Linked DNA regions of Homo sapiens: region 2 is linked to region 1. Evidence: fine-mapped expression QTL. Tissue or cell type: prefrontal cortex. Region 1 holds a variant in brackets; the other region holds the start of a gene. All regions are shown on one strand. Distances are between the middles of the regions.

Region 1 (6,311 bases):
CCAATTCACTAATTTACACACCCGTTTACACTCATCCACACCACACAATTCACACCAATTCACAAATGCACAATCACCAGTTCACACCCATCCACACTCATTCACACACAGTCTCACGAATTCACACCCATCTGCACTACTTCACACTCACCAATTCACTAATTCACACTCAATTTATAGTCATCCTTTCACAATCATTCTCACGCTCATACTCGTCCTCCCCTCCCAGGCTCAGGCCATCCTGTCACAGCCTTTCCTAGCTGGGATCACAAGTGTGCACCACTACACCTGGCCTAATTTTTATTTTTATTTATTTTTTTTGAGACAAAGTCTTGCTTTGTCACCCAGGCTGGAGTGCAATGGTGCAATCTCAGCTCACTGCAACCTCTGCCTCCTGGGTTCAGGCGATTCTCCTGCCTCAGCCTCCAGAGTAGCTGGGACTTCAGGCGTGCACCATCATGCCCAGCTAATTTTTTTATTTTTATTTTTATTTATTTATTTATTTTTGAGAGGGAGTTTTGCTCTTGTTGCCCAGGCTGAATACAATGGCACGATCTCAGCTCATCGCAACCTCCGCCCCCTGGGTTCAAGTGATTCTCCTGCCTCAGCCTCCAGAGTAGCTGGGAGTTCAGGTGCCCACCACCATGCCCGGCTAATTTTGTATTTTTAGTAGAGCTGGGGTTTCTCCATGTTGGTCAGGCTGGTCTTGAACTCCCGACCTCAGGTCATCTGCCCACCTCAGCCTCCCAAAGTGGTAGGATTACAGGCATGAGCCACCATGCCCAGCCTTATTTTTGTTTTTTATTTTGTTTTTGAGACAGAGTTTCACTCTTGTTCCCCAGGCTGGAGTGCAATGCTGCAATCTTGGCTCACCTCAACCTCCATCTCCCAGGTTCAAGCGATTCTCCTGCCTCAGCCTCCCGAGTAGCTGGGATTACAGGCGTGCACCACCATACCCGGCTAATTTTTGTATTTTTAGATGGGATTTCTCCATGTTGGCCAGGCTGGTCTTGAACTCTCGACCTCAGGTAATCCGCCCCCACTCAGTGTCCCAAAGTGCTGGGATTACAGGGGTGAGCCACCACGCCTGGCTTTTTTTTTTTTAATATAGAGTCTCACTCTGTCACCCAGGCTAGAGTGCAGTGGTGTGATCTTGGCTCACTGCAACCTCTGCCTCCTAGGTTCAAGAGATTATCCTGCCTCAGTCTCTTGAATAGGTGGGATTACAGGCATATGCCACCATCCCCAGCTAATTTTTGTATTTTTAGTAGAGATGGGGGTTTCACCATGTTGGCCAGACTGGTCTCGAACTCCTGACCTCAGGTGATTTGCCTGCCTTGGCCTCCCAAAATGCTGGGATTATAGGGGTGAGCCTGGCCTTATTTTTTTATTTTTGACTGGGTCTTGCTATATTGTCCCGCCTGGTCTCCATAATCCTGGGCTTAAACCTCCTGCCTCCACCTCCCAAAGTGCTGGGATTATAGGAGTGAGCCACCGCACCCAGCCGATTTTTCTATCATAATTGCGTACATCAAATTTGTAATTATAACCAAGGTAGAAATGTTACATGTAACAGCCGACCTCCCTTGGTGAGGAGGGAGAAGCCACCACGGAGGATCCAGGATGTGCATTCCATGTGGCAGCCGTGGCCTGGCCCTCGCCTGAGGCTGGTGTGACAGCTGCCCTAAGACGTGCCCAGCCGGGAAGGGAGGCGGATGCAGAGTCCCAGAGGTGGAGTCTGACCCTGCAGGTGGAGCCACCGCAGGTAACTGGCAGCACTCAGTGTTCTTTGTTCCCGATTTTAAAATTGATCAGGCATGGTGTCTCACACCTCTAATCCCAGAACTTTGGGAGGCCGAGGTGGGTGGCTCACGAGGTCAGCAGTTCGAGACTAGCCTGGCCAACACATTGAAACCCCGTCTGTACTAAAAATACAAAAATTCGCCGGGCGTGGTGGCTCATGCCTGTAATCCCAGCACTTTGGGAGGCTGAGGCAGGTGGATCACAAGGTCAGGAGTTTGAGACCAGCCTGACCAACATGGTGAAACCCTGTCTCTACTAAAAATACAAAAATTAGCTGGGTGTGGTGGTGCACACCTGTAATCCCAGCTACTCCAGAGGCCGAGGCAGGAGAACTGCTTGAACCCGGGAGGCGGAGGTTGCAGTGAGTCGAGATTGCGCCACTGCACTCCAGCCTGGGCGACAGAACGAGACTTCATCTCAAAAAAAGAGAAAAAAAGCCGGGTGCAGTGGCTCACGCTTGTAATCCCAGCACTTTGGGAGGCTGAGGCGGGTGGATCATGAGGTCAGGAGATCAAGACCGTCGTGGCTAACACGGCGAAACCCCGTCTCTACTAAAAAAAATACAAAAAATTAGCCAGATGTGGTGGCGGGCGCCTGTAGTCCCAGCTACTCGGGAGGCTGAGGCAGGAGAATGGCATGAACCCAGAAGGTGGAGCTTGCAGTGAGCAGAGATTGCGCCACTGCTCTCCAGCCTGGGCAACAGATCGAGACTCCATCTCAAAAAAAAAAAAAAAAATTAGCCAGGCGTGGTGGCGGGCACCTGTAATCCCAGCTACTCGGGAGGCTGAGGCAGGAGAATAGCTTGAAACTGGAAGGCAGAGGTTGCGGTGATTCTGAGATTGCACCACTGCTCTCCATCCTGAGCAAAAGAACAAAACTCTGTCTCAAAAAAAAAAAAAGAAAAAACTGATGGATCTCGCCTGTAATCCCATTGCTTTGAGAGGCCGAGGATCGCTTGAGGCCAGGAATTTGAGGCTGCAGTGGGCCAAGATGTTTGCACCACTGCCCTTCAGCCTGGGTGACACAGTGAGACCCTGTCCTTTTGTTTTGTTTTTGAGACCGAGTCTCACTCTGTCGCCCAGGCTGGAGTGCAATGGCACAATCTCGGCTCACTGCAACCTTTGCCTCCCAGGTTCAAGCAGTTCTTCTGCCTCAGCCCTTGGAGTAGCTCGGACTACAGGTGCACACCACCACACCCGGATAATTTTTGTATTTTTAGTAGAGATGGGGTTTCACTCCTTTCTTTTTTTTTTTTTGAGACGGAGTCTCGCCCTATCACCAGGCTGGAGTGCAGTGGTGCAATCTCGGCTGACTGCAACCTCCATCCCCCAGGTTCAAGTGATTCTCCTGCCTCAGCCTCCCAAGTAGCTGGAACTACAGGCACCTGCCACCACGCCTGGCTAATTTTTTGTATTTTTAGTAGAGACGGGGTTTCACCATGTTGGCCAGGATGGTCTCCATCTCTTGACCTTGTGATCCACCCACCTCGGCCTCCCAAGGTGCTGGGATTACCGATGTGAGCCACCGCGCCCAACCCTTTTTTTTTTTTTTTTTTTTGAGATGGAGTCTCACTCTGTTTCCCAGGCTGGAATGCAACGGCACGATCTCGGCTCACTGCAACCTCCACCTCCCGGGTTCAAGTAATTCTCTTGCCTCAGCCTCCCAAGTAGCTGGGACTACAGGCACCTGCCACCACGCCTGGCTAATTTTTTGTATTTTTAGTAGAGACAGGGTTTCACCATGTTGGCCAGGATGGTCTTGAACTCCTGACCTCAGGTGATCTGCCCACCTTGGCCTCCCAAAGTGCTGGGATTACAGGCGTGAACCATCTTGCCTGGCCGAGACTTTGTGGCTTAAAAAAAAAAAATTACAGAAGGTGGCCCTGGGGCCTAAGGTCATGATTCCGGGGCGATGTGTGTGTACCAGGCAGCCCGTCTCACTGCATTTGCATGTTTAGAACAAGCCAGATACTACTCGAGAGGAGGCAGATGATTTGTGAAATGTTTCTGTATTTTCAAACCTTCTTGCCTGTAGTTTTGAGTCTCAGTGCAACAATTATGCTTCACCCCATCTCAGCAGTGTCCTGACTCTGTTGTCCAGGAGGAGGAGACAGTGGTGGTGGAGGGCAGCTCTCCTCTTCCGGGCCTTCCGACAACCGATCTGGGATCCACAGACAGCCCTGCCTCCTCGGGGCTGCAGGAGGAGGGACCAACACGAATGCAGGCCATGGCTGCCGGGGACGCTGGTCAGGATCAGCAGGAAAACAGTCAGCCAGGGACATGGCCGGGAACAGTC[G/A]CCACAAGCGGCTATAACGGATTAACACATTTTCTTTTGTTTTTGATAAACAAGTTTACTTGTAAATTTAGTCAGCATACATAACTAACCAAAACTTCAATATATCTTGAGACCCCCTTGGGGGGCTGTCTCCATAAAAGTGACTTTCCCAGGAGAGTGACTGGATGTGATTGGCCAACACCGTCTTAGCCCGCAGGGGTTCCTGGTGCCGAAGCCTCACGTCCCTCCCCACAGCGAGTTTTCAGAATCCAAAGGCCGTAGGAGAAAGAAGGCTGGCGGTGTTTCCTCTTAGAGGGGAGAAACTCAGCCTGGGTAGGAGACCCAGCCCCACGCAGGGAAAACTGTGCTAACGCTTCCGATGTGCGTGGCAGGTGCGGCGGCGGCGAATACGGTTTGTCCTCGAGCCTAACCCTGTCTGTGTTGGTGTCAGCAGTGGCCCCCCTACCACACACACAGGGTCCCTGGCGTCCCAAGACCACTCCTGGCAGCCCCGCCACTGGCTGCGCCTGGAAGCCGCGTCCTCAGGCCTCGCCTGGCATTTGCTGTCACAGAGGTTGCTTCCTTGGGTCCGTCCGTCCTCGCCCCTCCAGCCTGGGCGCCCCCCGACCCCTGTCTCATTCCCTCCACCACATGCAGCACAGTCCAGGAGGCTGGGGTCCAAGAGGGCCATGGCTGGCACCCGGCTTAGTGCTGAGTCCCCAGTGCCCAGCAAGCCTGGCACCCAGGAGGTGGTCAGCAAACGCTTCTGAACGACAGGAAGTGGGACTCTTCAGCCATCGATGATCCGCTGTGCGGCCACAGGTCCGTGTCTCTGTGTGTGTCTTTCCATGTGTGTCTGTGTGTGTCTCTGTTTCTGTGTGTGGACCTGTGTCTGTGTGTTTGTGTTTCCGTGTATCTTCTCTGTGTGTCCGTGTGTCTTCATGTGCATGCATGCGTGTCTCCATGTGTGTCGTGTGTGCGCATGTCTGTGTTCGTGTTTCCATGTATCTGTGTCTCCGTGTCTTCATGTGCATGCATGTGTATGTGTCTGTGTCTTCGCGTGTGTGCATGTGTCTGTGTTTCCGTGTATCTCTGTGTGTCTCCGTGTCTTCATGTGCATGCGTGTCTGTGTCTCCATGTGTCTTCGTGTGCATGCGTGTGTATCTCTGTGTGTCTCCATGTGTGTCTTTGTGTGTGTGTGCATGTGTCTGTGCACACTCATGGGAGTGAATATGGGCTTGGCTGTGCTGCTTGTGGCTCTGAGTGCCTGTGGTTTTTCTTCCCAATGAGACGGGCTGCCTGGAATGTCCGAGTCACCAGGAATGGCAGCCAAGATCAGATCCTCAGTGCGGGCCGTGGGGCCAGCTGACCCCTCTTGCTCCACCCCAACCCCCAGAGGTGGGGCTAGGAGGACGGTCCAGGGCGCTGGTTTGGCTGGGGGCTTAGCCAGAGCACAGTGATGCCAGTGGCTTTGTCCTGGTTTGTCCTCTTCCCAGAGGGAGAAAAATGCCAGGCCAGGCTGGGAATTAAGTCACACACCCACAGCTCTGCAGACCACCCCCCAGCGAGCAGAGGCTCCACAGTCCCAGCCCAGGAAGGTGCAGAAGAGGCACAGGTCACTGGCCCTGGGAGGAGCAGGTGACCTGGTCACTACCAGGCCTGCTCTTCTCTGTGGCTGTTTCCCACTGAGGGCCGGACAGGGAGGGTCAGGGAAGGGGCCTGATGGCCTCATCAGCCTTTTGTTCCTTGCCCAGGGCCCCATGGGGGTCAGCTGCCCCCAGGTGGCCCTCTCAGAGGTCAGGGCCCTCTCAGACGACAGCCTCTGGCCTGCATCTCCGCTGGCTGGGTCCCCGAAAGTGTGGCTGGAGGCCACTGCCCGGAGAGGGACGGCCCTGCAGAGTGAGGCGAGCCCTGGCCTGAGGCTGTCGTGCGGACCAGGCGCCCCTCTCAGCCCTGCACCCAGAGCCGGGCCCTCCCAGACCCGAGGGCCAACCCTGTCCCCCCACCAAACTGCTGTCCGTCCTCCCTCCATGGGGAGAGAGGGAACAGGGAGAGTGACGGAAGGAGACAGAGACTGCAGAGGCCAAGGCCCCAGAGTGTGCGACGGAGACAGACATGGGCGGGCGGGCAGCTGCCAGCACTAATACAAACCAGTTGGAAAAACAGGAGGAGAGGCCAGCAGAGGCCTCGAGGCCAGCCAGGTGGGGCTTGTTTTTCCAGAATGAAAGGCCCAG
Region 2 (6,416 bases), 59 kb before region 1:
TCCCACTTCAGCCTCCTAAATAGCTGGGACTACAGGCACCTAACCACCGCGCCCGGCTAGTTTTGGTATTTTTTGTAGAGATGGGATCTTGTCACGTTGCCCACACTGGTCTGGAACTCCTGGTGTCAAGTGATCTGCCTGCCTGGGCCTCCCACAGTGCTGGGATGACAGGCATCAGCCCCCGCGCCCAGCACAGTCCCTGACGTCTGTCCGTCTCCCAGGGCTTTATTGCACGTCAGCAGTTCCAGCTCCATTTTCTTTTCTTTCTTTTTTTTTTGTCGAGGAGGAATTTTTTGCTCTTGTTTCCCAGGCTGGAGTGCAATGGCACGATCTCGGCTCACTGCAACCTCCATTTTCCAGGTTCAGGCAATCCTCCTGCCTCAGCCTCCCGAGTAGCTGGGATTACAGGCGCACACTACCACGCCCGGCTAATTTTTGTATTTTTAGTAGAGGTGGGGTTTCACCGTGTTAGCCAGGATGGTCTCAAACTCCTAACCTCAGGTGATCTGCCCGCCTCGGCCTCCCAAAGTGCTGGGATTACAGACGTGAGCCACTATGCCCAGCCTCCAGCTCCGTGTTCATAATTAATTGACAGGAGTAGGTGTCTGTGAGCTGAGCCGTTCCCTGTGAGGCCTTCTAGTGGGCTCCATCCCTTCCAACACCTTCCAGGCCTCTCCAGCTCACCTACTTCCTTCAGACTTGTGAACAAGAAGGAGAGTGGTACCATGTGGCGTGTGACATCTAGCAGGGCAGCAGAGGCCTCCCTGCAGTGTCCCTACAGCGCTGGGCACGGTGGCTCACACCTGTAATCCCAGCATTTTGGGAGGCTGAGGCGGGTGGATCACTTGAGGTCAGGAGCTTGAGACCAGCCTGGCCAATTTGGTGAAACCCCGTCTCTGCTACAAATACAAAAATCAGGCCGGGCACGGTGTCTCATGCCTGTAATCCCGCACTTTGGGAGGCTGAGGCGGGTGTATCACCTGATGTCAGGAGTTCGAGACCAGCCTGACCAGTATGGTGAAACCTCCTGTCTTAAAAAAAAAAAAAATACAAAACTTAGCTGGGCCTGTTGACACGTGCCTGTAGTACCTGCTACTCGGGAAGCTGAGACAGGAGAATTGTTTGAACCCGGGAGGAGGAGGTTGCAGTGAGCCGAGATCAAACCATTGCACTCCAGCCTGGGCAACAGAGCGAGAATCCATCTCAAAAAAAAAAAAAAAAAAAAAAAAGTTAGCCAGGCATGGTGGTGGGCGCCTGTAATCCCAGCATTTTGGGAACCTGTGGAAGGCGGATCACTTGAGGTCAGGAGACCAGCCTGGCCAACATGGTGAAACCCTGTCTTTACTAAAAATACAAAAATTAGCCGGTCATGGCGGTGGGTGCCTATAATCCCAGCTACTTGGGAGGCTGAGGCAGGAGAATCACTTGAAACTGGCAGATGGTGGTTCCAAGTGAGCTGAGATCACACCACTGCACTCCAGCCTGAGTGACAGAGTGAGACTCCGTCTCAAAAATACAAATAAAAAGTTTTAAAAAGTTGCAAAACCTCTGCTTTCTAAGTGCCCCCCAACCAGGTCTCTCGCTTATTCATTCAACAAACACTGCTGAACTGCTACTAAGTCCCAGGGACTGTCATCGGAAAAGGAGGTCCCGATCCAGACCCCGAGAGAGGGTTCTTGGACCCCACACAAGGAAGAATTCGGGGGAGTCCACGGAGTAAACTGAAAGCAAGTTTAATAGGAAAGTAAAGGAATAAGAGAAGGGCTGCCCCATAGGCTGAGCAGCGGCCTGGGCTACTCCGACGAGAACACTTATTGTTGTTTCTTGATATGTACTAAACATGGTGTGGATTATTCCGGACTTTTCCGGGAAAGGGGCAGGCAATTCCCGGAAGTGAGGGTTCTTCCCCCTTTTAGACCATCTAGGGTAACTTCCCGGCATTGCCATGGCAACTGTAAATGGTCCTGGTGCTGGTGGGCGTGTCTCATGCTAATGTATTATAATCAGCACATAATGAGCAGTGAGGACTGGCTGTCTTGGTTTTGGTGGTTTGGGGCCGGCTTCTTCACGGCATCCTGTTTTATCAGCGGGGTCTTTGTGATCTGTATCTTGTGCTGATCTCATCCTGTGACTAAGAATGCCTGACCTCCAGGGAATGCGGCCCAGCCGGTCTCGGCCTCATTTTACCCAGCCCCTGTTCAAGATGGAGTCGCTCTGGTTCGAACGTCTCTGCAGAATCACTCCAGGTTCTTTGGATTCATGGCAAAGGGGCTGCGGCCTCTGCCCCTCCGTGCCCCACTGTGTGTGGGTCCTACAAGCATTGCAGAGGCAGCTGTGGCTGCCCCCACTGCGGTGGAACCCGGGAGACGGGAGTCTTGGGAGGGGCCTCCTCGAGGTCCATTCTAGCCGCTGTACCCCTGGGAAGCTGGCGTGAGGTAGTTTCTGTGGCCTCCCTGGCCCTGATGAGTACGGGACTTTCCACCCAGCCCCCAGAGCTCCTCGCTTCTTTCCCGGTCAGCCTTACGGAGCTTTCCTTCTAGAAGAGGAAGGCAGACATTTAAATAAACACATAGATACTTTCCTGTAGTGATAAATGCTAAGAACAAACTAAAACAGGGTTAGAGTCGCACGTTGCCTCAGATCCACCTGTGGTCAGGATCTGGGAAGGTGACGGATGAGTAGCCTGATGAGGTTTGTAGGGCAGGGTCTGTGTGGCTTGGGGGGTGGTGGGATGGGGCCCCTGGTCCCTTGGGCCCTTGGAGAGGCAGTCCTCTAGGGAGTGGGGGAGGCCAGACCAGGGCCCTCAGGAGACCCTGTCCTTGGGGACCTGGGAGGCTGAAGGGGGCTGGGGTGGGAATGGGTAGCCCTCATTACCTTTCCCGTGCAGCCGCTGGAGGGGCCAGGCTGCTGCAGCCACCCCAAAGAGCCATGCTCCCTTCTCCTGCCTGGCCCCAGGTACTGGGAGACAGGAAGATGCCCTCAGCACCAGCCCCACCCATCCTGCCCCAGGCCCCCAGGATCCCGCTGCCCCAGGCCTTGCTGGGGCAGAGCTGCTTTTCCAGATGCAGACGCACCCTAGCAGGGATTCTCCCCACTCTCCCGCCTGCCCCCCGACCCCCGCCCCCACCTGCCCAGGCATCTGTCCCTTCCCTGGCTCCAGACTTGCCCCAGCCAGTCCCCAAAGGGTTTTCGTCCCTCCCATGCCAGCGCCACCCTCTTTTCCAGGCCACCTGCCTGGAGTCCTTGGTGAATCTTTTGTCCTGTCCAGCATTTACAGAAAGGAAGGCCAGAACCTCACCCTGCCCTCCTCCCCAGCCTGGAATCGGGAGGAGGGGCCGGCACCCACCCCTGGGTGGGCTTAGCCAGCTGGGACAGGAGTGGGTGAGGGGGCTGCCCGAGGGTGGGCCCCATGGAGAGCCCTGTGAGGCCTTCCAGGGGCACATCGGGGTACATCCAAGGCTGCGCTTCCTGGGGGAGGTGGCGTCTGAGCAACTTTCGTCCACAAGCATGTTCCTGCTTGTCCTCCCCAACCGCCTGGCCTTTGTTCCCCAGGAGGGCAGCCGAACTGGGGCCCTGGCAGCCAGCAGGGGAGGGAGTATGTTGGACAGGGGGCTGTGCCCGAAGGCAGGGCCTTCCTAAGTGGCTGAGTAAACAGCGTCAGGTGGCCTCAGCCTGGCCCAGGGGACCAGCTGTGTTCTCCCACCCCCTGCAAGGCTGAAGCTGCCACCATTCAGCTTTTCAGCAGCAGACACTCCACCCCAAAGCCTGCAGAAGGGATTTTGTGAAGAGGGTCACCAGGCTGAGCCTCGGCCAGAACCCGTCTACAGAGGACCCTCAGCCAGAGCAGAAAGCTCCTGAGCCAGCTCCCTTGGGTAACAGAGCCAAGCCCCTCTGAAGGCTAAGTGGTAACTGGAATGGGGGGCTCCAGTTGGCCTGGGACACGGCTGGGGGCAGGCCAGAGGCCTCCACAGTGGATGTAGGATCCCTGCTCCCCCCCAGATGGACTCCCAGAGGCCTGAGCCCAGAGAGGAGGAGGAGGAGGAACAGGAACTGCGGTGGATGGAGCTGGACTCCGAAGAGGCCCTGGGAACCAGGACAGAGGGGCCTAGTGTTGTCCAGGGCTGGGGGCACCTGCTCCAGGCCGTGTGGAGGGGCCCTGCAGGCCTGGTGACGCAGCTGCTGCGGCAAGGTGCCAGCGTGGAGGAGAGGTGCACCTGCGCTGGGGGGTGAAGGGGTCCCTTCTCTGGGTGGGGCAGGATGGGGGTCCCAGCACTGGGTGGGTGGAGGAGTCCCTTCTCTGGATGGGGTAGGACGGGGGTCCCAGCGCTGGGTGGGCGGCAGGACGGGGTGGGGCAGGGCGGGGTTCTGGTCAGTGGTCCACCCCCGCGCCGACGCCCTTGCCCCCTCCTCAGGGACCACGCAGGCCGGACCCCGCTCCACCTGGCCGTGCTGCGGGGCCACGCGCCCCTGGTGCGTCTCCTGCTGCAGCGAGGGGCCCCGGTGGGCGCGGTGGACCGGGCGGGGCGCACCGCGCTGCACGAGGCCGCCTGGCACGGACACTCGCGGGTGGCCGAGCTGCTGCTGCAGCGCGGGGCCTCGGCGGCGGCTCGCTCCGGGACGGGCCTCACGCCGCTGCACTGGGCCGCTGCCCTGGGCCACACGCTGCTGGCCGCGCGCCTGCTGGAGGCTCCGGGCCCGGGACCCGCGGCAGCGGAGGCGGAGGACGCGCGCGGCTGGACGGCGGCGCACTGGGCGGCCGCGGGCGGGCGGCTGGCGGTGCTGGAGCTGCTGGCGGCCGGCGGCGCGGGCCTGGACGGCGCCCTGCTCGTGGCTGCCGCTGCGGGGCGCGGGGCGGCGCTGCGCTTCCTCCTGGCGCGCGGGGCGCGGGTGGACGCCCGGGATGGCGCGGGGGCCACAGCGCTGGGTCTGGCGGCCGCCCTAGGCCGCTCCCAGGTACGTCCCGCCCTCCGCCCGGCAGTGATGGGAGGGGGCGCAGGGCCAGGATCCCCAGAGACGTGCCACCGGGGCAGCTGGAGCCAGGCTGGGGGACGGTGTCCAGGCACGAAGGCCCTGAGCGCGCCCCCGGCTGTGCCCCTCCGGTGTAGCCCCGTCCCGTGGAGACCAGGGCGGGATCCGAGGCCCGGGGCTCGGCTTCATGCTGGTGGCAGCAACAGACTCTCCGCCAGCGCCGGGCCTGTGCCTGAGACCCCCGTTCCTGGGCAGCGGGCAGGGTGTTGGCTGCAGATCCTTGGATTTGCTCTAAGGACTCTTAGGGGGAAAAGTGGACGTTTCCAAGCAGGCCAGCCTTGGGTTCGGCCTCACAACATGAGGAAGTGGTGTCAGGAGAGACAGGCCGCTGCGGGGACAGAAGAGGCCTGGGCTGGGCAAACGCCTGGTGGCTCTGCCCCTCGCCTACCGGGCTGAGGCCGGCCCCTGCTTTTCTCTCCTCTTCTAGGACATTGAGGTGCTGCTGGGCCACGGGGCAGACCCAGGCATCAGGGACAGGCATGGCCGCTCTGCGCTGCACAGGGCTGCCGCCCGAGGACACCTGCTTGCCGTCCAGTTGCTGGTCACCCAGGGGGCCGAGGTGGATGCGCGGGACACCCTGGGCCTCACACCCCTGCATCACGCCTCTCGGGAAGGCCACGTGGAGGTTGCCGGCTGCCTGCTGGACAGGGGTGCCCAGGTGGATGCTACCGGCTGGCTCCGAAAGACCCCCCTACACCTGGCTGCAGAGCGAGGGCATGGGCCTACCGTGGGGCTTCTGCTGAGCCGAGGGGCCAGCCCCACTCTGCGGACGCAGTGGGCCGAGGTGGCCCAGATGCCTGAGGGGGACCTGCCCCAGGCGCTGCCTGAACTTGGAGGGGGGGAGAAGGAGTGTGAGGGCATAGAGTCCACGGGCTGAGCCAGACAGCAGGCTCCAGGCTCCACCGCCCCAGTGATTTCCAGGCTCTCTGGCTGAGGCTGCCTGCCTGGAGGGGACATCAGGGAAGAGGCTTCCGGAGGAGGGGATGGGAGAAAGTAGGGGATGTGGCTTGAGCTGCAGTCACAGGCCTTGGCTGGACCAGGGATGGCCCCCAGCTCCCAGGAGGGCCCACTGACCCTGCAGCTCCAGCCTTCTCCATACTTCAACAAAGAATGAGTTGTGGCAATGAGGGAAGAGAGACCCTCTCATAGTGTTTTATACTCAGTACCTGTTTTAAGAAAAAACAACAAGGAAGTAAAACCAAAGACAGGCAGGCAGCCTGGCGCTAGGCCCGAAACCAGGCCTGCGCCTGCCTGGCCTAAACCCAGTAGTTGAAAATCAATTCATAACTTAGAAACCGATGTTATTCATAGATTCCAGACATTGTATAGAAGAACATTTGTGAAACTCCCTGCCGTGTTCTGTTTCTCTCTGACCGCCGGTGCATGCA

Alleles and levels. Alleles are on the strand shown, and positions count from the first base shown. SD is a standard deviation of normalised expression in the study named.
In carriers of allele G in region 1, the expression in prefrontal cortex of the gene that starts at base 3,729 in region 2 tends to be lower than with A alone (large effect, 1.4 SD a copy in ROSMAP).

The links. PIP is the estimated chance that this variant, and not a neighbour inherited with it, causes the effect. A credible set is the group of variants that fine-mapping cannot tell apart.
Region 2: it holds the start of ANKRD65, and the variant in region 1 is the best candidate, but not a certain one, in a credible set for the expression of ANKRD65 in prefrontal cortex (ROSMAP, PIP 0.81).

Annotation. Positions count from the first base shown.
Region 1 is chr1:1,359,830-1,366,140 of GRCh38, reverse strand. It overlaps a transcript of MXRA8 not described here. Among named protein-coding and RNA genes, the nearest start is that of MXRA8, 4.4 kb to the right of the region's middle. The variant G/A (reference allele first, on the strand shown) is at 4,099.
Region 2 is chr1:1,418,589-1,425,004 of GRCh38, reverse strand. ANKRD65 (ankyrin repeat domain 65) reads left to right here and starts at 3,729. Exons shown (of 4, transcript NM_001145210.3): 1 at 3,729-3,872; 2 at 4,000-4,208; 3 at 4,413-4,953; 4 at 5,456-6,416. The coding sequence starts at 4,000. The coding sequence ends at 5,905. ANKRD65-AS1 (ANKRD65 antisense RNA 1) reads right to left here and starts at 4,839. Exons shown (of 2, transcript NR_187360.1): 1 at 4,441-4,839; 2 at 1,718-2,536. RefSeq lists an enhancer at 6,060-6,416.